4 linked regions of the Homo sapiens genome follow. The protein of the gene in region 2 interacts with the protein of the main gene of each other region in a biochemical or structural test. Each region holds a gene or a part of one and is shown on either strand. Other genes may lie near its edges. The genes, in order: CPSF4, FIP1L1, CPSF1 and PAPOLA.

Region 1 (7,025 bases), on a different chromosome or scaffold from region 2:
CTCAGGACAGCTGAGGCCACGCATTCTCTAAGCAGGGCTCAAGGCAAGTTTGTTGCTACCAGAAGACACATCTGAGGCTGTTATTTTGAAGGGCTATTTAGGATGGCTGAGATGTCACCAGGATCATGGCTCCTGGAGAGAAGGAACCAGCTCGGGCCTGAGAGGCAATGCCCACGCTGGAGGGAGAAGTGGGTTTCAGGGAGAAGGTGGACGTGGACAGAAACCAACCACGGACATAATGCAGCCAGCTGCACAACTCGCTGCTTCCGGGTCACCCTCGTTAGCCTCAAATCCGAGTGATTGAAAGAGCTCCAAACACTGAAGCACTCCAAAGTGATGCGCGGGGCCAGGCGTGGTGGCTCACGCCTGTAATCCCAGCACTTTGGGAGGCTGAGGCAGGCAGATCACTCGAGCCCAGGAGTTCAAGACCAGTATGTGAAACATAGCGAGACCCTATGTCTTTAAAAAAAAAAAAAAAAAAAAAGAGATGAGCAGAAAATAGCCACACTGTCCCCTAAAAGCTGGCTGAGGCTGGCAGGTTCTGCCAGAGTTCTCCTCTGAGAATAGAAAGATGGGAAAAGCAGGCAGAGACAGTGTGGGCACTGAGCAGCCAGCGGACCCCTCTGCACCCTGGTTCTCAGCAGAGCCTCCAGGGCTCCAGGCGCCTTACCGAACTTGGAGTAGAAGTAGCACTCGGGCATCTTGGTCATGTCATACTCATGCAGGAACTCACACTGGTCCCCTTTCTTGCATAGGCCACGCAGCCAGTGTTTGCACACAACTGTCTTCTCACCACTGATGTGGCGAAACGGACACATGCCCCCTGCCGGCAAGATAGGGACAGGGTGTCAGCAGAGAGGCCACCCTGAGCCTGGGGGACACGGCCTGAAGAAGCTGAGGTACCTTCACTTCCTAACTCCTGGAGCCACCTGAAGGCATCACGTCCTGGAAAGGGGCAGAGGTCCCCCTCACAGAAGGCAACATGATTTGAGGTACTACACTGACAGACATTTTACATTTTAATAGTTACTCATGGCCGGGCGCAGTGGATCACGCTGGTAATCCCAGCACTTTGGAAGGCCGAGGTGGGCGGATCACAAGGTCAGGAGATCGAGACCATCCTGGCTGGCACGGAGACCATCCTGGCTGTCACGGTGAAATCCTGTCTCTTCTAAAAATACAAAAAATTAGCCGCGCATGGTGGCTGGCGCCTATAGTCCCAGCTACTCGGGAGGCTGAGGCAGGACAACAGCGTGAACCCGGGAGGCGGAGCTTGCAGTGAGCAGAGATCGCGCCACTGCACACCAGCCTGGGCAACAGAGCAAGACACCTTTTCAAAAAAAAAAAAAAAAAAGTTACTCATGATCTCACAGATATTACTGTAAGATGGAGGAATTAAAAGGGGGGAGGTGCTGGGAGGCTGAGGTGGGTAGATCACGAGGTCAGGAGTTCGAGACCAGCCTGGCTGACATGGTGAAACCCCATCTCTACTAAAAGTACAAAAAAAATTAGCCCGGCTTGCGGGTGGGTGCCTGTAATCCCAGCTACTTGGGAGGCTGAGGCTGGAGAATCGCTTGAACCCAGGAGGCGGAGGTTGCAGTGACCGGAGATCACGCCATTGCACTCCAGCCTGGATGACAAGAACAAAACTCTGTCTCAAAAAAAAAAAAAAGAAAAAAAAAAAGAAAGGAACTTGGCCGGGTGTAGGAGCTCAAATCTATGATCCTAGCACTTTGGAAGGCCAAGACAGGAGAATCACTTGAGCCAAGAAGTTCGAGATCAGCCTGAGATCTTGTCTTCACTACATAAATAAATAAGTAAGTAAGTAAGTAAGCCAGCCAAGCAAGCTTGGGGACCAGGCACAGTGGCTCACACCTGCAATCGCAGTAGTTTGGGAGGCCAAGGCAGGTGCATCACCTGAGGTCAGGAGTTCGAGACCAGCCTGGCCAACATAATGAAACCCTGTCTCTACTAAAAATACAAAAAATTAGCTGGGCGTGGTGGTGTGCACCTGTAATCCCAGCTACTCAGGAGGCTGAGGCAGGAGAATTGCTTGAACCCAGGAGGCAGAAGTTGCAGTGAACCAAGATGACACCACTGCACTCCAGCCTGGGCAACAAGAGCAAAACTCCGTTAAAAAAAAAAAAAAAAAAAAAAAAAAAAAAAAAAAAAGCTGGGTATGGTGGTGTACACCTGTAGTCCTGGCTACTGAGGAGGCTGAGGTGGGAGGATCACTTGGGCCCAGGAGGTCAAGCTTGCAGTCAGCTATGACTGTGCCACTGCACTCCAGCCTGGGTGACAGAGTAAGATGCTGCCTCTTTTTTAAAAAAAAAAAAAAAGGAAAGACCAATTTCAGAATTGAGGAAATGTGATGTATACACATGGAGGGACGTGTCCCTTCTGGGACAGGACCTGATGGGACAGAGCCAGCCTCTGGGGATGTGTGAGACTTCTAACGGGTGGCCTGGCAAGACCACCATGGAGGTCCGACCAGAATGAGGCCGCTGTACACTTCTGCTGTCCAATATGGCAGCTGCTAGCCCCATGTGACTACTGAGCACTTGAAATATGACTAGTGTGTCTGAGAATTTTGTTTTAAATGTGATTTGATTTTACTTAAATTTGAACTGCCACATGTGACTAGTGGCTACTGTATTAGTCAACAGAGAGACAGAATGCCCTGTGTTAGGGATGGCTGTGCTAACAGAAGGTGGCTGGTCAGAAGGGCAGAATTACTGAGCAAAGACATGGGAATGAGACCAGAAACTCAGTGGAGGTAATGACGTTCTGACTGGACAGTGTGAAGGTGGCCTGGCTGATCTGCCAGAAAGTCTCCTACCTCAGTGGTAAATGACTACGTTATAGAAGCAAAACTCACCAAAACCATTCATTAAAACCAGCCCTTTGCTCTGATTCTCTGCTCTCTTTTTCAAGCTTCTGATTAATATTTAAGTCTCCTAAATAAATTTTCCTACAGGGAGAAAAATGCCCAGACCATGGAAAGTTTAGGTTGTACCTAGTGATACTTCTTTCTTTCTTTTTTTTTTGTTTTGTTTTGTTAAGACAGAGTCTCACTCTGTTACCTAGGCTGGAGTGCAGTGGTGCGATCTTGGCTCACTACAACCTCTGCCTAACAGGTTCAAGTGATTCTCCTGCCTCAGCCTCCCCAGTAGCTGGGATTACAGACGGGCGTCACCATGCCCAGCTAATTTTTGAATTTTTAGTAGAGACGATGTTTCACCATGTTGGCCAGGCTGGTCTCAAACTCCTGACCTCAGGTGATCCATCCACCTCGGCCTCCCAAAGTGCTGGGATTACAGGCGTAAGCCACCACGCCTGACCCCTAGTGATACTTCTGATGGATTAGCCCGGCCCACATACAATTATTAAAAGAGCACAGCCAGAGGGGTAACAAGATGGCGACCAAGACAGTGGAGCTCCATAAGCTGAAGCTTGCTGAACTAAAGTAAGAATGAATGTCTTGCTCGTGGTTTGGAGACGAGCAAATAAAGCAAGATTTTTTTTTTTTTTGAGATAGAGTCTTGCTCTGTTGCCAGGCTGGAGTGCAATGGCACGATCTCGGCTCACTGCAACCTCTGACTCCCTGGTTCAAGGGATTCTCGCACCTCAGTAGTTTTGTGTAGTCTGTGTTGAGGGCTGGTTATCGAGAACAAGACCCCGCAAGATGGGTTATCATGGGGTGTTTCGATGGGAGGCCACAGAAAACCATGAGCCAGTGGAAACTATGGAATGAGAAAGACCTGGGTTCAGACACTGGGCTCTGCCGCTTATTAACTCTGTGACATTGAGAAAGTTCCTGAGTGTCTCAATGCTGGGGGCTTCTCTCCATGTCACAGGTCAGCTTGTGGCCACGGGGAATGCGAAGTGATAAGGCAGCCTTAGAGCCAGGTTCAGTCCTGCGTTTAGGTTTCAGGTGGAACACCCCATCAGGGTCCTAGCCTGTCCAAACCAGTTTTATCTACAGAGATCGTTAGTCTGTAGAAAGCAATGTAAGCCAGAGACCTGGCGGCCTCCAAGTCTGCCGGGGAGAAGGAGGTGGGAGGGCGCCTCCGGAGGCACATCAGGGAGCCCGGAGTTTCTTACCTTTGCCGCAGGCAGCTTTCAAAAAGAATTCACAGACAGCAGCGCCCGACTCTGTAGAAAGGAGAGAAAAGGAGAGGAATCAAAGAGGTGCAATTTGCTATTGACAATGTCTGAAGACAGTGGGAGGGAACCCTTCTGACCTCTGACCCACCAAGGGTTCAGGGTACAGGAAATAAAGTAGCAAAAATTTGCAAAGCCCAACCAAGCAAGGAAGAAGCTGCTTAAGTTAGTCACGCCCTACAAAATGAGACACATACATTGAGAACAGTCATTACCCAGTGCTTTGAGAGCCTCCTGTATATAAGATCCTTTCAAGGAGTTAAGAGTGGGTGGGGAAAGGAAGGCTGGAGTACGAGATCACAGAAATAATTTTTTTTTTTTTGAGATGGGGTTTCGCTCTAGTTGCCTGGGCTGGAGTGCAATGACGCGATCTTGGCTCACTGCAATCTCTGCCTCCCAGGTTCAAGCAATTCTCTTGCCTCAGCCTCCCAAGTAGCTGGGATTACAGGTGCCTGCCACCACGCTTGGCTAATTTTTGTATTTTTAGTAGAGACGGGGTTTCACCATGTTGGCCAGGCTGGTCTCGAACTCTTGACTTCAGGTGATCCACCCACCTCGGCCTCCCAAAGTGCTGGGATTACAGGCGTTGAGCCAAAGTGCCTGACACACAGGAATAAATTAACGGCCCCTAGCTCACACCTTCCTCCAGGAGGGCGAATTCACAGATACCTTAACATGAGGCAGAGGGAAGGAATGATCTCACAGACGTACAGACAATCAGGGCCTCTGAGGAGGGTCAGGCTTCAAGGAAGAGGCAGTGCCTCTGAGATGCTAGTCCAGGGGGAAGCACATTAAGTGCAGAAACAGAGGACTGCTTTTAATATGCAACATCCGTACACAATTTTTTTTTTCTATTTTTTTGAGACAGAGTCTCGCTCTGTCGCCCAGGCTAGAGTGTGGTGGTGCGATCTTGGCTCACCGTAACCTCTGCCTCCTTGGTTCAAGAGATTCTCCTGCCTCAGCTTCCTGAGTAGCTGGAATTATAGGTGTACCATCATGCCTGCCCAATTTTTTTGTATTTTTAGTAGAGATAGGGTTTTGCCATGTTGGCCAGGCTGGTCCCAAACTACTGGCTTCAAGTGATCCACCTACCTTGGCCTCCCAAAGTGCTGGGATTATAGACGTGAGCCACCACACCTGGCCCACATACAATTATTACAGGCTGGTCTCGAACTCCTGACCTCGTGATCCGCCTGCCTTGGCTTCCCAAAGTGCTAGGATTGAGCCACCGCACCCCACCCCACATACAATTATTAAAAGAGCACACCCGGAGGGGTAACAAGATGGTAACTGAGATGGTGGAGCTCCATAAGCTGAAGCTTGCTAAACTAAAGCAAGAATGTCTTCTTGTGGTTTGGAGACCAAGGGAATAAAGCAAGATCTTATCCACAGACTCCAGGCATATCTTGAAGAACATGCTGAAGAGGAGGCAAATGAAGATGTACTAGGAGATGAAACAGAAGAAGAAAAAAACCCCTTGTCAAATAGGAAGAACCCCCTGAAAAAAACTGTTGATGTGGCAGCAGAGAAGAAAGTGGTGAAAATTACATCTGAAATACCACAGGCTGAGAGAATGCAGAAGAGGGCCGAACAATTCAGTGTACCTGTGAGCTTGGAGAGTAAGAAAGCTGCTCAGGCAGCTAGGTTTGGGATTTCTTCAGTTCCAACAAAAGTCTGTCATCTGAACACACCTATGGTTAACTTGGATAAGCCGAAGGAAAGAGCTCAAAGATTTGGTTTGAATGTCTCTTCAATTTCCAGAAAGTCTGAAGATGATAAGAAACTGAAAAAGAGGAAGGAGCGATTTGGGATTGTCACAAGTTCAGCTGGAACTGGAACCACAGAGGATACAGAGGCAAAGAAGAGGAAAAGAGCAGAGCGCTTTGGCATTGCCTGATGAAAGGTTCTTGATACTTTCTGTTCTCCAGTGTTTTCCACTTCTCTCATTCTTCTTGGTCACATATATACTAAATGCAGTCTTGCCTTGCAATGAGGGAGCAGGTACCCCAGGTAAAACTGTGAACTGCCGCGGCAGTTTGACTTATTGCTGTTTCAGCTTTAAGGTTGTTGTGTTTTTGTTTTTGATTATATTGCTTGTTTTTTGTTTTTTTTTTTTTTTTTTTTGAGACGGAGTCTCGCTGTTGCCCAGGCTGGAGTGCAGTGGTGTGATCTCGGCTCACTGCAGGCTCTGCCCCACCGGGGTTCACACCATTCTCCTGCCTCAGCCTCCCGAGTAGCTGGGACTACAGGCACCCGCCACCTTGCCCAGCTAATTTTTTGTATTTTTAGTAGAGACGGGGTTTCACCGTGTTAGCCAGGATGGTCTCGATCTCCTGACCTCGTGATCCGCCCGCCTCGGCCTCCCAAAGTGCTGGGATTACAGGTGTGAGCCACAACGCCCGGCCGATTATGTTGCTTGTTAATAAAAAAGAAAAGAAAAGAAAAAAAAAGCACAGCCTTTCATTCCCACAGTCGGAGTGTGCTGGAATTCAGTGGGCTCCAGGGACCAGCTGTTCTGATGAGTCCAGGAATTCACCAGCCCCAGCTGCCAGACTAAACTGACCTTGGCATCAGAAACAGTTTCCTCTACAAGTAACCATTTTAGAATTGCTGAAAAACCAATGACAGCATCTCTGAAGCCCACTTAACATGCCTCCCCTTGCTAAATCACAAAAGATTCCTTGGCTTCTTGGAAGCAAGCAGATTTTGCTAGGACACAGCTGAGGTTATAGAACTTATGGCTGTCACAGGGAGGTCACTCCATTTGCATCTCAAAAAGTCTGAAAGTGGCCAGGTGCGGTGACTCACGTCTGTAATCCTAGCACTTTGGGAGGCTGAGGCGGGTGGATCACTTGACATCA
Region 2 (7,025 bases):
GGAGCTGAAACTACAGTTCAGCTTCCTTACCCAAAAAATCCCCTATAGTCTTTTCACTCATTGGTATATTATCTGAAATGTTATTTCATTTTAAAATTTATATATTCAACTCAGTTCCTAATTCTGATCTCAACCACAAAGTTGAGATTAGTTTTAGTTTATGTTATGAAAGTGATTGAATATTTCTTTGTACCCATTCCTTCAGTTGGTCAAGAAATTAATTACAGGTATAGTTTTACAATCAAATATACTTTTCTATATGATAATCTTTATCCCATTAATTTTTATTTTTATTGGTTACAATTTTAAAAGCTTACTTTCTAATCAAACATTCTTTAATTTTAATTCCGCAATACACAACTTGCTAAAATTTATTGGAGGGAACCTTCTACCTTCCCTGAGTGTCACTGTCAACATAGCTTTATATTCCTTTCTGCAACTTCATTTGGGGAGCCGTTGAGTTGATTTCATCCTATGGGGGAAAAAACAATTTCCTTTACAGTGTTATTTTTCTAGAAAAAGCTTAAAATTTTATCATGTTTCTAACATTTTAATGGTGATAGAAAATTAAAACTTCCAAAAGAGTAGGCCTATTGAAGAAAGGTACTCTGCCAGACCTACTGCTATCTGGCTTGGTACATCATTGCATTGCTCTACCAAAGTTCCTGCTATTAGAATTTGCCCGTTTCCTACTGACTGGCTCATTGCTGAAGCCTCTGTTTTTCTTAAACATTGCATTGCAGTCTCCAATTGTGTTATATCTATCCAAGTTTTGACTAAAGAAGGGATACTGTTTTGTGACGTAGAAAGCAAATGGGACTTGCTTCTGGCTACCTAGAAGCTTATTTCAGCAGGAGGTAAATGTACTGAACAATTATAGCTGCATATTTGTTTTCTTGAAGCAAGCAGTAGAACAATGAAAATATAACAGTTATGTTTTGACTTTTTATCTTTCATTTTGCTTTATTTGGTGATTGTGCTATAAAATGCCACTGTAAAGATCAAATTGATTTAGGATAATTAAAATTGATTAAGTTTGTCATATATTTTTAAAATGTGTAAAAAGCTTGAATTATAGCCCACCATCAAATTATAAATCATTAATAAACTGTGAAGGCATTTGCATTCTTTTTTTTTTTTTTTTTTTTTTTTGAGACAGCATCTCACGCTGTCGCCCAGGCTAGAGTGCAGTGGCATGATCACTGCAGCCTCACTGCAACCTCTATCTCCTGGGTTCAAGCAATTGTCTGCTTCAGCCTTCCGAGTAGCTGGGATTACAGGTGCCCGCCACCATGCCTGGCTAATTTTTTTTTTTTTGTATTTTTAGTAGAGACGGGGTTTTACCATCTTGGCCAGGCTGGTCTTGAATTCCTGACCTCGTGATCCACCCACCTCAGCCTCTCAAAGTGCTGGGATTACAGGCATGAGCCTCCACGCCCAGCCTGGCATTTGCATTCTACTTACAATGTTGAGTACTTGTCTTCTGCAAGTTACTAGAAATAACGGAATAAGACAGTCAGATTTTACCATTACTGTCTCCAGTGGAGACAATAATTTTAGGAGCTTTATTAAAGCTTAGAAATACTAATATAATCTATCTGTACTTCCGAAAAGTAATGCCTGACATGTATACTTACTTTTGTTGTTTGTAGTGCTAATCCTCCATCTGGAATTGAAGATGAAACTGCTGAAAATGGTGTACCAAAACCGGTAACATAAGGCTTTGAAATCCAGTTACTGATACAAATCTTTATCAATAGCTTCACAGTTTACATAGAAAGCAAGCTGGCATTTTACATTACCTTCAGTATCAGGTGTTATCTGGCCCTTTCTTACATCTCCTACTTCATCTGGTGCCATCAAAAACATATATAGGAATTAAAATGAGGAAAAGAAATAGTAGAAAGACTGCAGAGGAAAATAGTATGTGCAAAGGCTTGATGTTTATTGCTTTCAAGGAATTGAATGGTTATAAATCTACTGAATATAGTGAGCCTGGTTTTCAGAGCAAGTTTTGAGCCCACAACCTTTCACTGTTACGATTTTTTAACGTTGCTTTTTAATGTATGTGACAGTCCCTGACTGCATGCCTGCATGCCATTGATACTTTGTGAGGTGAACATATCATTGGTCCTATGAATATTTGTGCATTTTAATCCTATAAAAGGAAGGAAGTTATTGTTCCGGAAGTTTGAAGTTGTATACAAAAAAGTATTTTGCCTATGTGATCTACTTATTTACTATGATGTGATTAAGCACAAAATAGCCTTTAAGAGCCAAAGTAAAATCTTCACAAATATAGAATTTGCATGTAGGGCCTCTTCTAGGTATACAAGAATACCAAGAATAACTGAGCTTCTACTTAACTATTTGGTACTTCTTATGCTTTGGGGTTTTTTTTTTTAATTCTTTAATTGATTTGGTACATTGTATTTGTGACACTGTGAATCTTAAAATTGTTTTCCTCTTAGATTCTTTTTTGCCAAGACTTCTCAAATACTTATTTTTTATAATTTTATCTTGTAGGTATCTTAGTAAGTTGCTTTAGATCTTTTTGCAAGAGGGGCAGATATGATAGTTAAAAAAAAAATGAGGTGTTGTTTACCACAAGGAGATGATGCCAAAAAGATTTCATTTCTTTATTCATAGTCTTATCCTTTTTATCCTGTAGAACATCAAAATTATGAGTTGAAATAGGTGGCAGCATTATAAGCTTGTAACTTTTAAATTGTATCTCAAAAAAATACAGAGTGGGGCCGGGCATGGTGGCTCACGCCTGTAATTCCAGCACTTTGGGAGGCCAAGGTGGGTGGATCACCTGAGGTCAGGAGTTCGAGGCCAGCCTGGCCAACATGGTGAAACCCTGTCTCTGCTAAAAATACAAAAATTAGTTGGGCATGGTGGCGGGCACCTGTAATCCTAGCTACTCTAGAGGCTGAGGCCGGAGAATTGCTTGAACCTGGGAGGTGGAGGTTGCAGTGAGCTGAGATCATGCCACTGCACTCAAGCCGGGGCGACAAAGTGAGAGTCTGTCTCAAGACAGAAGAAAGAAAAAAAAAAACAGGGTGGTTACTTTTTTTAGTTATTAGTATTAGATGTTGAAATGGATTACTGAATGTATTTTATAATTTGTTTATGTTCATGTAGAAAGTGACTGAGACCGAAGATGATAGTGATAGTGACAGCGATGATGATGAAGATGATGTTCATGTCACTATAGGAGACATTAAAACGGGAGCACCACAGTATGGGTAAGTTATTTTTTAGTAAGTAACAATTGTGTAAATGCTATATAGTAAGGAGAGTGTGCCTATATCAAACTCTCAGTGGTTGAGTCCATTGTTTTTACATTTTTCTATTTTAACATAAAAGAACTTGTTAAAGTTTCATCATGAATATACTTCTTTGCTAAAATACAGTTAATTGATTAGGCGAAGGTACATAGAAGCAGCAGTTTTTGATGCTGAATTTAAAGTGTTTTTATAAAAGAATTGAGTGCTAGGCCAGGCATAGAGGTTCATGCCTGTAATCCCAGGACTTTGGGAGGCCGAGGCGGGTGAATCACCTGAGGTCAGGAGTTCAAGACCAGCCTGACCAGCATGGTGAAACCTTATCTCTACTAAAAATACAATAATTAGCCAGGCATGGTGGTGGGCACCTGTAATCCCAGCTACTCCAGAGACTAAGGCAGGAGAATCACTTGAACCTGGGAGGTGGAGGTTGCGGTGAACCCAGATCGAGCCACTGTACTCCAGCCTGGGTAACAGAGTGAGACTCTGTCTCGAGAAAAAGAAAAAAAAAAAGTACTATAAATTCTTTGATTAGAATTAGAAATCCTTAAATTGTAATTTGTATCTGTACTTATTATTATTTCACTTTATTATCCAGACCTGAGTTTAGGTTTTTAATTTTTTTGCCTAATAAAAACAATATCAAAAGTATTTCTTTTTGTTCTTAATAGTGTTTTCAGGTTTCTAATTCTCCCTTAGGCCTTTTAGGCCAATGTTTGTCTCCAATTTTGTATTCTATAAACTGGACCAAGTAAATGGACTGTCATTGACTCATTGAGCGCATAAAGAATCTTACAGAAAGATTGGAAGGGAAATACATTGAAGTACGAATTGTGATTTAGTTACGATAGGAGAATAAGAGTCAATGTGTTTTGTTTTTCAAATTGGCTGTATAATGTGGTTATTATAGCTTATGCATTGGAAACATAAAATACATTAATTTCACTATAGTTCATTAAGCAACCTCATCTGGAATCAACCAGTATATACAAAAATATTGTTAAATATTTTATTAGTAGAGTCATTTGTTTTCAGAAGTCATTTCAGGAAGCTTAAAGCCAATTCAGTTATTGTCATAGTCAGTTTTGTATTATAATAATGACTACCCATGTAATTTTAAAATCCTAGCACCTTTTTAGGGAACAGAGTAAAGAGGCTGATTTTTCATGTTAGGGGTGGATATTCTAAATGTGCTCCTCATTCTCATTTGGGAAAGTAAATAATTACTTAATGAGAAAGTTGGGCTTATACTGTAGTACTAGTAGGCCTTTACTATCTGCATGATGCAAAAGGAACACATAAAATTGTAATAATTGCATGTTCATTAAATGTTATGTAAAATTATTTGTATTTGCAAGTTATAGAACAACTTGAAGCAAATGACAATTTTTTTGGATTATGGATGGGACCTTTTTTTGGTAGAAATTGCACTCAAATATTAAATATACGTGGACTTCCATAGTACCTTACTAAACTTTATTTCTTATAGCAATTTTCAGTTTTATGCATTGTAATTATGTTTATACATATTTATTACCTTTACACACTTCAGATTTCTATAGAGTAGAAACCATTGAATTCAAAACTCTTCAAAAAAACAAGAAACTGTGATTTATGGAGTTTTCTATTCCTCACATTGCCTTAAATACAGTTAAGTGTGCAGTAAATGGTTATTGACTAAATAAACTGAATGTTATTTAGTTACAGTTGTCTCTGAGGGTTTTTCCCCTTAGACATTTGATTATGAAAATTTTCAAATGCTCACAAAAGTTGAAGGAATTGACATGTGAATGCTCATTTACCCATCACCTAGATTATACAATCTACATTTTGCTTTGTTTGCTTGAACTCATATCCCTCTATGCGTTTACCCATTTATCAGTTGATTTATTTTTTATTCATTTTATGCATTTCGAAAGTAAAGTACAGGCATTTGTGAAGAGTGTAAAGTTGTTTAACCTCTATATTTCAAGGTATATCCCTTGAAAACAAAGTCAGTGAGAAAATGAAATTTGATAAACATTTACTTATGCACAGCGTTTTCAGAAGCAAATTTAAAGAACAAACTGTGTCCAAGGACTGAATTGATTTATTGTAAATTGTTAGGAAATACAAAATAGCATTTTTTTTTTTTTTTTGCGTAACATACCTTTGTTACAAGTTCATTTTATATGTAAGTAAGGTATGAAGAAAAGCAACTCTTAAAGTAGAAATAATTTATCTTGGAAAGTAGTTTGTTACCTATCTCTGTGAGATTGATCCATTTATGTACTCAATAAATAATTTTTAAAGACATAATTTATCTGGCACTGTGTTAAGTAGCAAAGATAATGTGCCTTTATCAAACCATCTGTGATCATTCCATTATTATTATTGTTTTTACATTTACCATGCTACAAAAGAACCCTTGGTAAAATCACCATGAAATTTCATGGAGTTAACAAATTAGATAAAGTTACATGAAAGCAGCAATTTTTTATCTGTGAATGTATTAATTGATGAGAATACAGGAAGTTATTATTTTCCAGAGGTAGTGAGGATGCCAGACATGTGAGTAAATATTTTCAGTGCAACATAAGTGCTAGAATAGAAACATGTACAAAGTGATTCGAAAGGTTTGAGAGGAGAGTTGCTAAAAGCCTACAGGTGTTGAAGAGAAGATCCCAGAGGTAACATTTGAACTTGTTTGAATAATTTTTGAGATGGGAGACAGTGGTTTTTAGGTGGAGGACACTGCCTAACAATAAATATATTAGATGCGTGCCTTGGAGGAAGTACATGGCTGGAGGATAAGGTAGATGAAAAGAGATGGTTGAAATCACTTATGGAAGGAGTTAGGATGCTTTTGCTATGTCTTTGTAGACCTTGCAAGCTTGTCCAATGCACCTTATTTTGTTGCTGTTGTTGTTCTGTTTTGCTTTGTTTTAGTCTTTTAGCTGCCCAAAGCCATGGTTTTTAGTTTCTGTCTCCAGTGATAAGTGGAAAAGAGGGGTGATAAAGGGGCTTTACTGGCCTAACCAGAAACAGAAACTAAGGACTCATGACTGTATTCTCTCCCTTAGACACCCCTAATTAGGTTTTTAGACAGGTCATATCATTTGAAAAGATAACTCTAGCATCAGTAGTTGAGATGGGTTAGATAGAGAGACATTGACTAATAGATGTGAAGTAGTTGTCCAGGTGAGATGATAATCTAGACTAAGGCAGCAGTAGTAGAGAGATGAATGGGAAAATAGTACATTTGAGTATTAGAGAAACAGAAATATAGTCAGGCATGTGGTATACACCTGTAGTCCCATGGACTTGGGAGGCTGAGGTAGGAGGATTGCTTGAGCCTTGGAGTTTCAGGCCAGCCTGGGCAATATAGTAAGATCCTGTCTCAAAGAATAAATAGAAACAAATAACATGGGTAACTGGTTGGTTGTGGATGGAGGAGGAGATAAAGGGCTCAGTGACTTAAAGATTTCTAGAGCAGTTAATTGGGTACAGGTGGGTGCTACTGCTCCCACCTCCCACAAAACAGATTCATTTGACATGTTTATTTTGGAGTTCCTATAGAAAGTCCAAGTATAGGATCTAGCATTTAGAGTGGTCTGAGACTTCATAGGGATCTATTGGACATTATATCAAATTTGCCTCTGCAATTTTTCATACCACTAAGCTTCTCTACACAGGCTTCTCTACAAAGGCTTGTGGCTTAAAAAAGAAAAATGATGTTTTAAAAGGCAGAATGGG
Region 3 (7,025 bases), on a different chromosome or scaffold from region 2:
CCTCGCTGCCGTACACTTCAATCTCGTCCACCTCATCCTGCGGCACCGACTTACCCGCAGCTGCACACAGAGAGCCCACTTGAGCGCAGCCCTGGGTCACCTGGCCCCGCTCCTGACCAGCCCTGGACCGGCCCTCACCTGACCAGCCGGCCGTCGCATCCACTCGCTTCTTCTTTGAGGGAGGCTCTTCCTGTGAGGCAGGAGGGGCACTGAGTGGCATGCCACAGCAGTGCCCACATGAAGGGTGGTGGCCCAATGGGCCCAGGAAACCCACCTTGTCGGCAGCCTCACGGACAGCACTGGCCGGGGGCTCCTGCAGCTTCTCCGTGTACTTGAGGAGGAGGGAATTGCCCAGGCGAGAACCCAGGAACAGGTACCCGGGCTCCATGGTGACCATCTGAGGGAGGGCAGGTGTGTGATGGCTGGGCCGGGTCTGGACCCAGACCCAACCCCTAGTCCCAACTCACGCTGGTGGTGAGGACGCTGGCGGCCGCCTTGTCAAAGTGGAACGCTCGGACACTGCGCATGCCGTCGGTGATGAGGGTCAGCACGTAGCTGGGGGCAGGGAGAATTCTGAGTCGGGGATGGGGACCCTGGGGGAGTGAAGGGGGCCAGGGGACCCTACAGGACTTGTGGGGGGCGGTGTGGGCAGAGTTCATGGGCGGGGGAGGGGCTCACATCTCGCCGCCCTTGAGGGAGATGACCATCTTGTCGTAGGAGATGAAGGTGGCCTGGGCGCAGTCCAGGGTGATCCGCACACCCTCCTGGGTGCCTGTGGGGTGGGTGGTCAGGCCGACTAGGCAGGCCCAAGCCGTCCCCGGGCCCCCCCCGCCCCAGCCACCCCACACTCACGAAGCGGGAAAGCCGTGGTTCCTGTGGTGAGGCTGTTGAGAGCCACGCCATACGGGGGGACGCTCTGGTTCAGGTACAACAGCGAGTTGACGGCAAACACCACCACCCCACCTGGAGGTGGACACAGGCTGGTGGGCAGGCTCAGTGCTCTCTCCACACACTCCCCTATCCACTCCCAGGACACACACCTATGGGCTTGGGCACAGCCAGAGCCTGGGTGCAGTCAAAGGGCAGGCTGGTGAGGGACCAGATGACGGGGTGCACCTTCTGCGTGATGTTCAGTGAGATGGCCACAATGGAGCACGTGTCCTGCCGCACGGCCACGCGCCTGGGGACGCCAGTGGGTCAGCCAAGGGCCTTGCCTCCCCGCAGAGACCCAGGCCCAGCTCCTCCCGAGCAAGCCCCACCACACCCCATAGGCCCCGCCCTAAACCCCATGGGCCCCACCCCAGGCAGAGGCAGCTAGGGGGCCCACAGTGCAGAGGGGCCTCCTTAGGGGGCTCACCCAGGCCAGGTCTGGTTGGGCTCAAACAGGATGAGGAGGGTAGGCTCGTAGTAGCCATGCAGGAACTGCAGGTCGATGATGTTGAGCAGCTTCTCGTCTAGGGCCCGCACGTCGATGATGTAGCTGGGCAGGAAGCTGGACCTCTGCCTGGGGGGCCAGGGGCTTCAGCAGGAGAGGAGGGGAGGCGGGGAGGGGAGCTCGGGCTCTGGCGCCTCCCACCCCAGCACCACAGCCTGCCTCAGCTGGCACTCACCCCTCACCCACGAGCCCCTCGTGCTCCTCAGCCAGGCTCTCCCTGCGGAAGGGCAGGACCACCAGCCGCGTGCCGTAGACAAGCATGGCTGCACAGCGCCCGTCGGGGTCCACCCGCACTCGCGGCGTGTGTACATTCTGCACAAACCCGTCCTGGGGGCAGAGGGGGCATCAGCCAGGCCCAGCATAGGAGACCCCGAGGGAAACACTTGGGGCCACAGAACCCAGCTGCAGGGGGAGGGAGGGTGGCTGGGCGGGGCCTGGGCGGGGGCGGGAGCGCGGCCCTACCCGAAGCTCAGGCTCCTCAAAGTAGTGCAGTGACAGGGTCTTCAGGTCATGGGTGCCCGGGTCGTACTCCACCACAGACAGCTGCGGTCAGAGGGCACAGCCGTGGCTGCCGACTGCCGGTCCTGACAGTGTCGCCCCCGGCAACCAACGGCTGTACCCAGGCCCTGGCACCCACTCCCACGCCTTGGCCAGGCCTACCCCACCAAGCCTACCACTCACCTTGGCATCCTTGAAGCTTAGGAGCAGGGCATCCCGCTTGGCTCCTGCCAGCTGCACGCTGGCCATGGACATGACGTTGCCAAAGAAGGAGAAGGAGGCAGCAAGCTCGAGCTTCTCCCGGTGGGCCTTCCCCTCTAGGGGAGACACCAGGGCTCAGGGTCAGGGCCCAGCCATGCCTGGCACCCGCACAGCCCCAGGCCGCCCCACCACACTCACCTGTGCTCCTGTCATTCTTGGTCAGAGCCTGGAGGGGAGAGAAAGACAGGGCAGTGAGGGGCCACATCTGGCAGCTCACCTCATCCGGGGAACGAGAAAAGACCACCAAGCCTGGCCCCTGCCTCCTGGGAGCTCTGCCCAAACCCTCTCTGCAGCAGGGAGAAGGGCTTCTGGAGACAGCTGTGCACAGCCCCCCACAGCGACCCCCATTCACGCTCTCATGCCCACGGCCCAGCCCTGGCACAGGCCCCTCCCCAGGAAGCCCCTACCTCACGGCTCCCTAGCAGCCAGGCCCTGTGCGGCAAGCACTCAGGGTTAGAGTGCACTCTGTGTCTGCACACCCCCAAACCTGCCTGGTTGCACACCTACAGCAGCCCAGCCCCGGCCCCTGGGTCCAAATGTCACAGGGCAGGAAGCCAGAGCCAAGGGGTATCTGTAGCTACTGATCTGCGTGCCTGTTAGAGAAGAGGAAGCCCTGCGCTATCCTGACGCCTCGGGCTCCCCCAGGCTGCCTCTCTATCTCCTCCCTTTTCACTGCCCTCCCAGAATGATAAGAGGCTGTGTGTTCTTTGCTACTAGGTAGCTAGTTTAACTAGCTAGCAGATTTATATGCCATTGCCTCAAGGCAAGGGAAAAGTGGTTTTTGTTTTGTTTTTTTTTGTTTTTTGTTTTTTGTTTTTGAGACGGAGTCTCACTCTGTCACCCAGGCTGAAGTGCAGTGGCGTGATCTTGGCTCACTGCAACCTCTGCCTCCCGGGTTCAAGTGATTCTGCCTCAGCCTCCCAAGTAGCTGGGATTACAGGTGCGTGCCACCATGTCCGGCTAATTTTTGTATTTTTAGTAGAGACAGGGTTTCACCATGTTGGCCAGGCTGGTCTCGAACTCCTGACCTCAGGTGATCCGCCCACCTTAGCCTCCCAAAGTGCTGGGATTACAGGCGTGAGCCACCTCAAGGTCATTTTTCACGATGGACTTGTGCTATGGGGAGGGCATCTTGGAAGCTGGTTAAGAGATACAGAAGAAGCATCCACAAACCAATACCCATCTCACAGCGACAAGGGCAACTCCAGGGCTTCACCCGCAAATTCTACCAAAGGTTTCAGAAGTAATGACACACTTAAAAAAAAAACACACACCCACTCATGTGGGGCTGACGGCACCGCAGGTGGCTCAGGCCACCCCAACAGCCCACAGACAGGTGGGACAGGAAGTGACACCAACCTCCTCAAAACGCCTGCAGATGAGCCCAGTGACAAGCAGGGGTATTGTAACACAACTGGGTTGAGTTATTCCAGGAACGCAAAACTAGATTTCCGCAAGAACAGCCATCGCTAAACTTACCATGCTGTCAAAATTAAGGAGAAAAATCATGTCATTTTAGTGGATACAAAAAAAGCATCTGATAAAGGCATTCGTGATAAAAACTCCTAGTAAAGCAAAAATAGGAGGAAAATTTTTTTTTTTTTTTTGAGATGGAGTCTCACTTTGTTGCCCAGGCTGGAGTGCAATGGTGTGATTTTGGCTCACTGCAACCTCTGCCTTCCAGGTTCAAGCGATTCTCCTGTCTCAGCCTCCTCAGTAGCTGGGATTATAGGCGCCCACCACCACGTCCAGCTAATTTTTGTATTTTTAGTACAGACAGGGTTTTGCCATGGCCAGGCTGGTCTTCAACCCCTGACCTCAAGCGATACACTCACCTCGGCCTCTCAAAGCGCTGGGATTACAGGCATGAGCCACCACGCCAGGCCTTTGTTTTTTGACATAGGGCCTCACTGTCTCCCAGGTTGGAGTGCAGAGGAGCAATCATGTTTCACTGCAGCCTCGACCTCCTGGGCTTAGGTGATCCTCCCACCTCAGCCTCCTGAGTAGCTGGGACCACATGTGAGTCACCACACCTGACTAATTTATTTATTTTTTTAAATTTTGAGACAGAGTCTCACTCTGTCACCCAGGCTGGAGGGCAGTAGTGTGATCTCAGCTCCCTGCAACCTCTGCCTCCTGGGTTCAAGCAATTCTCCTGCCTCAGCCTCCCAAGTAGCTGGGATTACAGGCATGTGCTACCATGCCCGGCTATTTTTGTATTTTTAATAGATAGGGTTTTGCCATGTTGGCCAGGATGGTCTCGAACCCCTGACCTCAGGTGATCCACCCACCTTGGCCTCCCAAAGTGCAAGGATTATAGACATGAGCCACCGCGCCCAACTTCCTTAATCAAATAAAGGGTATCTACAAAAAGTCTACAGCAATGTGGTGCTGGGAGTGAAACATTACAAGTTTTCCCTTTTGAGGCCGGGCACAGTGGCTCACGCCTGTAATCCCAGCACTTTGGGAGGCCGAGGTGGGTGGATCACCTGAGGTAAGGAGTTCGAGACCAGTCTAGCCAACATGGTGACATAGTGAAATCCCGTCTCTACTAAAAATACAAAAATTAGCTGGGTGTGGTGGCAGGTGCCTGTAGTCCCAGCTACTCAGGAGGCTAAGGCAGGAGAATCGCTTGAATCCGGGAGGCGGAGGTTGCAGTGAGCCAAGATCATGCCATTGCACTCCAGCCTGGGGGACAAGAGAGAGACTTGGTCTCAAAAAAACAAACAAAAAAAGAAGTTTTCCCTCTTGGTCAGGACCAGCCAAGGACGCCTGATCCACTCTGCCAAGTATAAGGTCAATATACAGAGATCAACTGCACTTCTGTGTACATGCAAGAAACAGGGGTAACCACTCAGAAGAATTTTTTTTTTTTTTGAGACGGAGTCTTGCTCTGTCGCCAGGCTAGAGTGCAGTGGCACAATCTTGGCTTACTGCAAGCTCTGCCTCCCAGGTTCAAGCCATTCTCCTGCCTCAGCTTACCGAGTAGCTGGGACTACAAGCGCCCACCACCACGCCTAATTTTTTTTTTTTTTGTATTTTAGTAGACTCGGGGTTTCACCATCTTGGACAGGCTGGTCTTGAACTCCTGAGCTCAGGCAATCCACCCACCTCGGCCTGCCAAAGTGCTGGGATTACAGGCGTGAGCCACTGCGCCCGGCCACCACTCAGAAGGATTTTAAGAAAAATGTGTACATAGTCAAATGGTCTAACTGGCATGTTGGGGGAAAGGGGACAGAATCAATAGCTAAAGAAATAGCGACCAAAGGCTGGGCGTGGTGGCTCACGCCTGTAATCCCAGCACTTTGGGAGGCTGAGGCAAGCGGATCACGGGGTCAGGCGATCGAGACCATCCTGGCTAACACGGTGAAACCCCGTCTCTACTAAAAATACAAAAACATTAGTCGGGCGCCTGTAGTCCCAGCTACTCAGGAGGCTGAGGCAGGGGAATCGCTTGAACCCAGGAGGTGGAGCTTGCAGTGAGCCGAGATTGTGCCACTGCACTCCAGCCTGGGTGATAGAGCGAGACTCCGTCTAAAAAAAAAAAGAGAAAGAAAGAAAGAAAAAAAAACCTTGAAAATCTGAATAAGAGGACGTTTACAGGGTTTCAAAATAAGTCCCTACAAGATACTTTTAGTTACAAAAGGAAGAAATAACCTTACAGTGGGGGAATCCAGGCCAACACTACCCAACCAAGCATCAAAGCATCAGCATCCAGTCATGAGGCAAAGGCCTCCGCCGCCTCCTGAAAGCTGATGGGGCTGCTGTTTGCCTCTTCTGTGGTGTTCCTGTCAAAAATACAAATGTCTCATCTAAACACCTGGGAATGTCTTGGCCGGGCTCCGTGGCTCACACCTGTAATCCCAGCACTTTGGAAGGCCAAGGCGGGTGGATCACTTGAGGTCAGGAGTTCGAGACCAGCCTGGCCAACATGGTGAAACCCCATCTCTACCAAAAATACAAAAAATTAGCTGGGTGTGGTGGCAGGCGCCTGTAATCCCAGCTACTCGGGAGGTTGAGGCAGGAGAACTGCTTGAACCCGGGAGGCAGAGGTTGCAGTGAGCTGAGATCGCACTGTTGCACTCTATCCTGGGTGACAGAGGGAGACTCTCTCTCAAAAAAGAAAAAAAAAAGACAGCTGTATGAAAGGTGGCTGTCTCCCTCCCTCTCCAGGTGAATCTGGGCTGGAGGCTGCCTTTAGGGCAGACTGTGGTGGCAGGGACGGTGCCCTCCTGGTCTAGCCCTTAAAGTGACTGGCAGCTTCTGCCTTAGCCTCCTAGGGCTCTGAGTTCCTGCAAGAAGCTCAACTACACCAACACCACCATGCTGCCAGGAAAACCAAGCTAGCCATGCTGGGGACAGGGGAGAGTGGAGGGACGGTGTGGGGGTAGGGGAAGACACATCTAGCCTGTCCCCAGCTCTTCAAGTCATCCCTGTCAAGGCTTGCCCTGGTGGAGGAGAGCCAAGGGCTCCCCACACTCTGATGAATCCCTGAAAACCTGGCTTCCAGGTCTGCGATTATGATAAAAGACCTCGTTTGCATATTCCAGGGCAGTTAGTTACAGAGCCACGACTAGACTGACCCCAGGAGGATGGCTTGAGCACAGGAGTTCGAGGCCAGCCTGGACAACATAGCAAGACCCCGTTTCTTAAAAACAAAAAACAAAACAGAAGAAGAAAACCTCTTTTCCTGCTATTTATGGCTCCATTTCTTGCTTCAGTTTACGCACATCTCCTCCAGAGTTGTCTGTGTTCACTGTTACTGACTCTCCTCCCCTGCTGGGCTCTTACCCCTGCTCCATTCAGACCACAACCCCTCGTGCCCACCAGA
Region 4 (7,025 bases), on a different chromosome or scaffold from region 2:
TAACTAATTTTTATAAAATTACTAGAAAAGAACATCTCTTTTGCAGAGGGAGGAGCAGGAGTTCATAAGAACAGGAATGGACGATTTATCTTAATTTGATTAAAAACCAAGAACCCTCACCTTTTGGGCCAAGGCAATTAATATAAAATGGCAGTAATCTTTTATTCTACTTTTTCTTAAATCATAGTTGACATATGTGGAAATGAAACGAAGAAACTTAAAAAAATCTGGGTTAATGACTAATCTCAAATTCCTTTTTTGTCCCGAAGCACTTAATGTTAATTTATTCTTTAAAAGCTTCTTATGAAAATTCGTATCTTTAATATTAGGCCAAATAAATGCTGAAAGCAAAAAGAAAAAAAAAACAATCACAAGAAACTAATGGCCTATAGATAGAGAATTAAAAGAGTGAAAGAGGTAGTGTGTACAAGTTTTATCCAAAAGTATAGTAACTGATTTCCCAACCTATCAATAAATTGGATCTTAGCTGCTAAAATTCAGAGTTTATTCAGAGGGTAAGTTTATGCAAGGAAGTACAAATAGAATCTGCCTTACTATCCTGGCCAAACTAGGGAAAAAAAATAGTTTCAGTTTGCCATTTTATACACAATGTGATCTCCAAGGCTGCCTACATGACTACATCATGAACTAAAATTTGAATCTGAAACCAAGCTGAGAAATGTCATAGAAATAAGACTAAACTTCAGTGTCTACAATCAATTTTATTTTAATATAATCTAAACACATACCATTTAGAAAATACCAAGAAAAATTTATGTACAAGAGTTGATGCTATTGCATTTGGATAAAGCTGGCAAGTTCTTGCTACTAGCATAGCCCAGGAAACACCACCGAGGAAACCTAATATATTGGAATAGATGTTGTGGCCTGTTGATAAGGGAAAAGCAAAAAGATAAGTTAGTGTTGAACAAAAGTTTGAACATTTTTAATAAGCTAGCCAACAAATTCTGAACTCACGTTTGGCCCATAGTTTGATAGCTCTCAGAGTTAACCTGAAGTTGTCAATGTTTGGTACTAGATGTAAAATTTCATCGGTTACCCTGCAACCTAATTAATAGGGGTAAAAAAAAACACACACACACACACACACACAAAACAAAACAAAACAAAAAAAAACAACATTAAATCATCAAAAGTTTAATGGTAATGCTTCCAAATTTTCTGAGATTGAAGTTAAAAGTAAACATAAATTTTTATTTGGTAGAACCAGTAAAGCTAATTCAATAAAGAGGGGGAAAAAATCTAAAGCATTTATCTCCTATTGTAAGCACTGACCAAAGAAACCAAAGTAAACTGTAACCTGCCCCAATTTGAACTTCAGATTCACAATTAAAACTTCCCACATATACTGCGGAAGACTTAATCCACTAAAGTTTCCAAGAACTGCTCTTCAAGAGCACAGTAACAAGCTATGCTAATATAAAATTGTACCAAAGTAGTCCTTCTGATCTCAGCAATGCTGAAAGCATTACTAAAGAATAACAGGATCAAAATTAATTTGGGTTAGGCCATGAAACCTAAATCACTAGCAACAGAGTACAAAAGTCAGATGGTCTTTTTAAGTGTCCTGAGTATACCATTAATGACAGAAGAAATACAGTGTATAAAATACTGTAGAGTGAAATAAACTACTACATACTCTTCTGTAGTTTATTAGGCAAAGTTCATTTTATTTAACTCACTACTGTGTTAACAATATAGCTATAAAAAGCTTCAATACAAAACTTGTGTAAAAACAACTAATATCTGACAAAAACTGAAGTACACAAAAGGAAGTAGGCTTTCTCATACCGTTAAGACTTCTTATACATCTTATATCTAAATTTTTTAGCAGACTGTCATCTCGTAGATCCAAATCTTCAGGAATTGTCTGCAGTGCTAATCTTGCAAACAAAATATCAATCTGAAACACAAACAAAACAACATTCCATATCTGTCAAACTACTTTTAAGGCATTTCTATGAAAAAACAAACAAACAAAAAATCCCAGCACTCTGGGAGGCTGAGGCAGGTGGAACACTTGAGCAAGACCAGCCTGGGCAACATGGCGAAACCCTGTCTCTATAAAAAAAATACAGGTCTGGCACAGTGGCTCGCACCTGTAATCCCAGCACTTTGGGAGGCCTGGGCAGGCGGATCACGAGGTCAGGAGATCGAGACCATCCTGGCTAACACGGTGAACCCCGTCTCTATTAAAAATACAAAAAAATTAGCCGGGCATGGTGGTGGGCACCTGTAGTCCCAGTTACTGGGGAGGCTGAGGCAGGAGAATGGTGTGAACCCAGGAGGCAGAACTGCAGTGAGCCGAGACCGCACCACTGCACTACAGCCTGGGTGACAGAGCAACACTCCGTCTCAAAAACAAAAACTACAAAAAAATTAGCCAGGTGTAGTGGCACACACCTGTGGTCTCAGCTATGGACCTCCCATGCACCTGTGGGAGGCTGAGGCAGAAAAATCATTTGAGCCTGGAAGGCGGAGGTTGCGGTAAGTCAAAACCATGCCACCGCACTCCAGCCTGGGTGACAGGAGTAAAACCCTGACTCAAAACAGCAAAACAAAAACCTAATTTTCCTTAAAGCCAGGATCCTTTCATTATCTATGAACACGACAATGTCCCTCCAAAAGTCCAAACTATATTATTTCGTATCATAGGTATTTTAATTAGATAATTTTAAAACATGGCAATATAGGCTGGGGGTAGTGGCTCCCGCCGGTAGTCCCAGCACTTTGGGAGCCAAGGCAGGAAGACTGCTTGAGGCTGTCTTCGAGATCAGCCTGGACAACATAGTGAGACTCCATCTCTACAAAAAAAATTAAAAATTAGCCAGGCATGGTGACAAGCGCCTGTAGTCCCACCTACTTGGGGGGGCTGAGGTAGGAGGATCCCTTGAGCCCAGGAGGTTGAGGCTACAGTGAACTGTGATTGCAACACTGCCTCTAGCCTGGGTAAAGTAAGACCCTGCCTCAGAAAAAAAAAAAAGAAAAAAAAAAACAAACAAACATGGCAATATTTTTAAAACAGAAATGGAAATGTACAAATACCTGGTTGTCAGTTTAATCACAATTATCAAGTTTGATGTATTAAGTTTGTTAAATGCATCTACTGGATATAGTAAGTCTAGTAAATACATATGCTGAATTAAAGTTAACTGTTTAGCTCTTCATCTATATGAATTATAAATTGATTACATACTAAAAAGTACCCAAATTTAGGCAAATAGCCTTATATTCAGCCAAAAATACCTCTCAATAAGGGGAGATCTCATTATACATGAGAACTTAATAGTACTCAAATATAAGGCAAACATCCTTACATTTAGCCAAAAATAATTCTCAATAAAGAGATTCCATTATATCTGAGAACTTTTATGTCTGTAATACTACAGTATGTTTTTCCAACTGAGTTTTAAGTAAAACAAAAACACTGGGGAAAGTACAGCCTAAAACAACCACAGTTAAGGCTAATTTTGAAGACATAGAATTCCGCTGACAAAATTGTTTCTTTTCTAAAGGAAAGGTGAGAGTGCAAAGAAACAGCACAGCTTTGGTAGTTATCCCTGAGGGTATGATTTCATGGTTCCAAAAATGTGGATGTCGCTGTAAACAAGCCTTTTATAAGATCACTTTTTTTTTGTTTGTTTGTTTTTTTGTTTTAGACAGAGTCTTGCTCTGTCGCCCAGGCTGGAGTGCAGTGGCAGGATCTTGGATCACTGCAACCTCCACTTCCCGGGTTCAAGTGATTCTCCTGCCTCAGTCTCCTAAGTAGCTGGGACTACAGGCACACGCCACCATGCCTGGCTAATTTTTTCTATTTTTAGTACAGACAGGGTTTCAACGTGTTGGCCAGGACGGTCTTGATCTCCTGACCTCGTGATCCACCTACCTTGGCCTCCCAAAGTGCTGGGATTACAGGCATGAGCCACCGTGCCTGGCTACTAGATCACTTTTTAAAAAGCAGTATTTTAGGAGCACATTTTAAAATATCATTTAAACATACCTACAGAAAAAAAATTGTACTGTTACACAAATAAGTACTTGTGGTCTAGGATAAACTGTTCAATGAAAAAGAACAGATTTCAAAGTCTCCCCCAATTTGGACAGAAATAAAGATTATAGGCTCATAAAACTAGGTAACTGAAAAAGCAACTCAGTAATAATACTGACACATTTTTTAAAGGATGGAATTACTTCAAAAAATATTGAAATGTGAAAATGATTACTAAATTTCCTAAAATATTATGTTCCTAAAATATTATTTTTTAATATAGCATGTATAATAGAAAATTAACACATTAAATGTTTTAAGTAGCCATCTAACTTTCCATCTTGATCCTGTAAAGTTTACAAAGTTAGGTCAGGTCTCCTTCCAAAAAAAAGTCCTCTTTGTCAGTAATATTCTTTTTAGGAAAATGAGGCCTCAACTTATACTTTATATTACAGATTATTTTTACGTTTACTTAAAACACTGACAGTAAATCAAAACTACATGAACTTGATAATCCTTTACCAAATTTAACATTTTATGTCTACTTATTAAGGTCAGTCACTTGACTTTTCATAAAATACAGAGTTGAGCGTCTTATGCAGCAACCTTAGATGCAGCCATTTTTTTGCAAAATAGTACAACAGTGAATTATCTTTTTTATTTTTTAAAGAGATTAAGTCTCGCTACATTGCCAGGCTAGATTTAAGCTCCTGGGCTCAAGAGATCCTCCTGTAGCAGCTTCCTGATAGGTGCACATCACTGTGCCCAGCTTCAATAAATTATTTCTCTTACAGTTTCCAAAATGTTACAATCTTCACTTTATTATCTGTGACTTTCCAGTACCATTCTGTACAGCAAAAGTAATGAATTACTAAAGTTGCTTCACTGTCAACTTTATTCTCATCACTTTAATTACACACACCGAAAGCAGCAAGGAGAAATGAACATCATCTCAAGAATTTGAGTCCATAAATCCTCCCCTATCGGAAGATATTTCAGCACTCACACTTTTCTCCCAATTTTTAAATGAAGTCAAAGCAAAGCATTACTTGCAAAAACACATTATGCTACTGCCTTAATGAGACTAAAAGCACACAAAACTGGCATATGGAAAAGCTACCAAAAAAACTTTTTTGTAATAGCATTTCAATCTTAAGGTTTCATTACTTCTGTTTTAGCTCCAAATTTCACTTGGTATTTTTAAAAAGATTTAAAATGGTATATTCTACAAGAATAGGCAGTCACTTCCATTTAAAAGCCTTAATTGTTATTAATATCACAACCAACTCACTAATTATAAACTTTAAACCAAGTTTTTAACCTATATCAATCAAAATTAGTGACAGCACATAGCAAGAACTGTCAATTTGAACTATACCTTACCTCTATCCCATCAAAACAGAGTTTAATAACTGGTACGAATGCCTCTTCAACAGCCTATAAGGAAAGTAAACAAGTTCAGGGTCTCTGAAACTACATTTTAAGCCTCTACTAGTTTTAGTACTTTAGCAAAACACCTGACACAAAAATAGCTAGCTTTAAGACTGGGCTGTTCGATCAGACAGATCAGAAATCAAGGTTCAAATATTTTACTTCACCCACTCATCAGATGTATGATTGTGGCCAGATTATTTCATATTTATTTTGTTTGCCTCAATTTCCTAATCTGTAAATGAGTTTATAATTTTAGGCTTGCTGTAAAGAATAAAACACAAACACATATGCCAAGTGTTTAGAAAGGTTTGGCAAATTGCAAGAACTCAATAAATGATGGCTATATCATAAAATTCACTCAACTGACTAAATGAATGTTCATAACTCATCCCATTTCACCCCGAACATTTACGCACTCTTAAATCTTTTACTTCTTCCTGTAATTTCAACTTATCATAGAATGAGGTGAAAAAGTCACTTCGATCAACATGTCTTGGTGCAACACACAACGCATCAATATCAGCACCTAAAAAAAATTAAGCCCATCAACCACTAATTAATATTACAAGAAAATTATTTTGCATCCTATCATGGTAGTATTTGATGTTGAGAATCTGTTTAACATACTGGTGAGCTTCTAAAAATGTTCCACCCCTTACTTAAAATTACCAGTCAATGGAGGACAAACATGATTTTAATTGATGTGGTATATTTTGATCCTGCAGCATCCTCTATTTATAGTGGCCCAAGTAAACTGGGAGCCCAAAGAAAGATGGCTCAGCAAGTACTTTCATGGTGGAGAGGGAATTATTCAAACATACACCCAACATCTTGATGTCATTAGTCATAGCCATGTTCATTGGTAAAACAAAAATAGTTTTCCTCTATGTACTACGTATTTGGTGCTTATAGGTTCTCTACCAGGCCCCTAAATGGGACCTACAAAATAAACTTCAAGCAGAAGAATCCAAAGAAGTAGACAATGGTAAAATATTTGTCATTAATTCAGTGCTTGATAAGAGGCCAGCACTAAGTACATAGGCAGAATTTTAAAAAGGAGAATTAAAATCAATTGGGGTCATAAAAGGGAGAGATTAATGTGGAATCAGGTCAACAGTCATTTTCCTAAAAGACAAGATGCTGAGGTATGACTCTGAAAGCTATTTATTAGAACAGGAAGAACGGTGTACAGCACACAGGATATATCAAAAGTAATGTACTAATGGGACAGAGTGATGGGAGATGGAGAGAGGAAAGGATACTAGAAAACAGACAACACTATCTCGGCAGATACAGTTCATGGTTAAAGAATACAGCCTCAGCTGGGCGTGGTGGCTCATGCCTGTAATCCCAGCACTCTGGGAGGCCGAGGCAAGTGGATGGCTTGAGCCCAGGAGTTCGAGACCAGCTGGACAACACGGGAAAACCCTGTCTCTACCAAAATAAAATTAAAAAATTAGCCAGGCATGGTGGCGTGTGCCTGTAGTCCCAGCTACTCAGGTGGCTGAGGCCTGAAAATCAATTGAGCCCAGGAGGTGGAAGGTGCAGTAAGCCAAGACTGTGCCACTGCATCCAGCCTGTG

What was found.
Region 1: the proteins of FIP1L1 (region 2) and CPSF4 form a complex in vitro, tested with the Homo sapiens proteins (one study listed by BioGRID).
Region 3: the proteins of FIP1L1 (region 2) and CPSF1 form a complex in vitro, tested with the Homo sapiens proteins (one study listed by BioGRID).
Region 4: the proteins of FIP1L1 (region 2) and PAPOLA form a complex in vitro, tested with the Homo sapiens proteins (one study listed by BioGRID).

What each region holds. Positions count from the first base shown.
Region 1 is NC_000007.14:99,441,919-99,448,943, reverse strand, and holds part of CPSF4 (cleavage and polyadenylation specificity factor subunit 4), read right to left. Parts: intron 6,610-7,025; exon of another isoform or gene 6,570-6,609; intron 6,248-6,569; exon of another isoform or gene 5,435-6,247; intron 4,156-5,434; coding exon 4,105-4,155; intron 824-4,104; coding exon 671-823; intron 1-670. UniProt on the Homo sapiens protein: Component of the cleavage and polyadenylation specificity factor (CPSF) complex that play a key role in pre-mRNA 3'-end formation, recognizing the AAUAAA signal sequence and interacting with poly(A) polymerase and other factors to bring about cleavage and poly(A) addition.
Region 2 is NC_000004.12:53,380,626-53,387,650, forward strand, and holds part of FIP1L1 (pre-mRNA 3'-end-processing factor FIP1), read left to right. Parts: intron 1-1,652; coding exon 1,653-1,710; intron 1,711-3,147; coding exon 3,148-3,251; intron 3,252-7,025.
Region 3 is NC_000008.11:144,399,314-144,406,338, forward strand, and holds part of CPSF1 (cleavage and polyadenylation specificity factor subunit 1), read right to left. Parts: intron 6,521-7,025; exon of another isoform or gene 6,517-6,520; intron 5,983-6,516; exon of another isoform or gene 5,852-5,982; intron 3,678-5,851; exon of another isoform or gene 3,554-3,677; intron 2,802-3,553; exon of another isoform or gene 2,602-2,801; intron 2,361-2,601; coding exon 2,333-2,360; intron 2,251-2,332; coding exon 2,117-2,250; intron 1,979-2,116; coding exon 1,898-1,978; intron 1,763-1,897; coding exon 1,611-1,762; intron 1,505-1,610; coding exon 1,358-1,504; intron 1,181-1,357; coding exon 1,041-1,180; intron 1,033-1,040; exon of another isoform or gene 964-1,032; coding exon 853-963; exon of another isoform or gene 773-852; coding exon 679-772; intron 556-678; coding exon 468-555; intron 398-467; coding exon 275-397; intron 191-274; coding exon 139-190; intron 61-138; coding exon 1-60. UniProt on the Homo sapiens protein: Component of the cleavage and polyadenylation specificity factor (CPSF) complex that plays a key role in pre-mRNA 3'-end formation, recognizing the AAUAAA signal sequence and interacting with poly(A) polymerase and other factors to bring about cleavage and poly(A) addition.
Region 4 is NC_000014.9:96,526,374-96,533,398, reverse strand, and holds part of PAPOLA (poly(A) polymerase alpha), read right to left. Parts: intron 5,970-7,025; coding exon 5,860-5,969; intron 5,447-5,859; coding exon 5,393-5,446; intron 1,925-5,392; coding exon 1,813-1,924; coding exon of another isoform or gene 1,703-1,812; exon of another isoform or gene 1,069-1,702; coding exon 979-1,068; exon of another isoform or gene 889-978; coding exon 750-888; coding exon of another isoform or gene 728-749; exon of another isoform or gene 1-727. UniProt on the Homo sapiens protein: Polymerase that creates the 3'-poly(A) tail of mRNA's. Also required for the endoribonucleolytic cleavage reaction at some polyadenylation sites.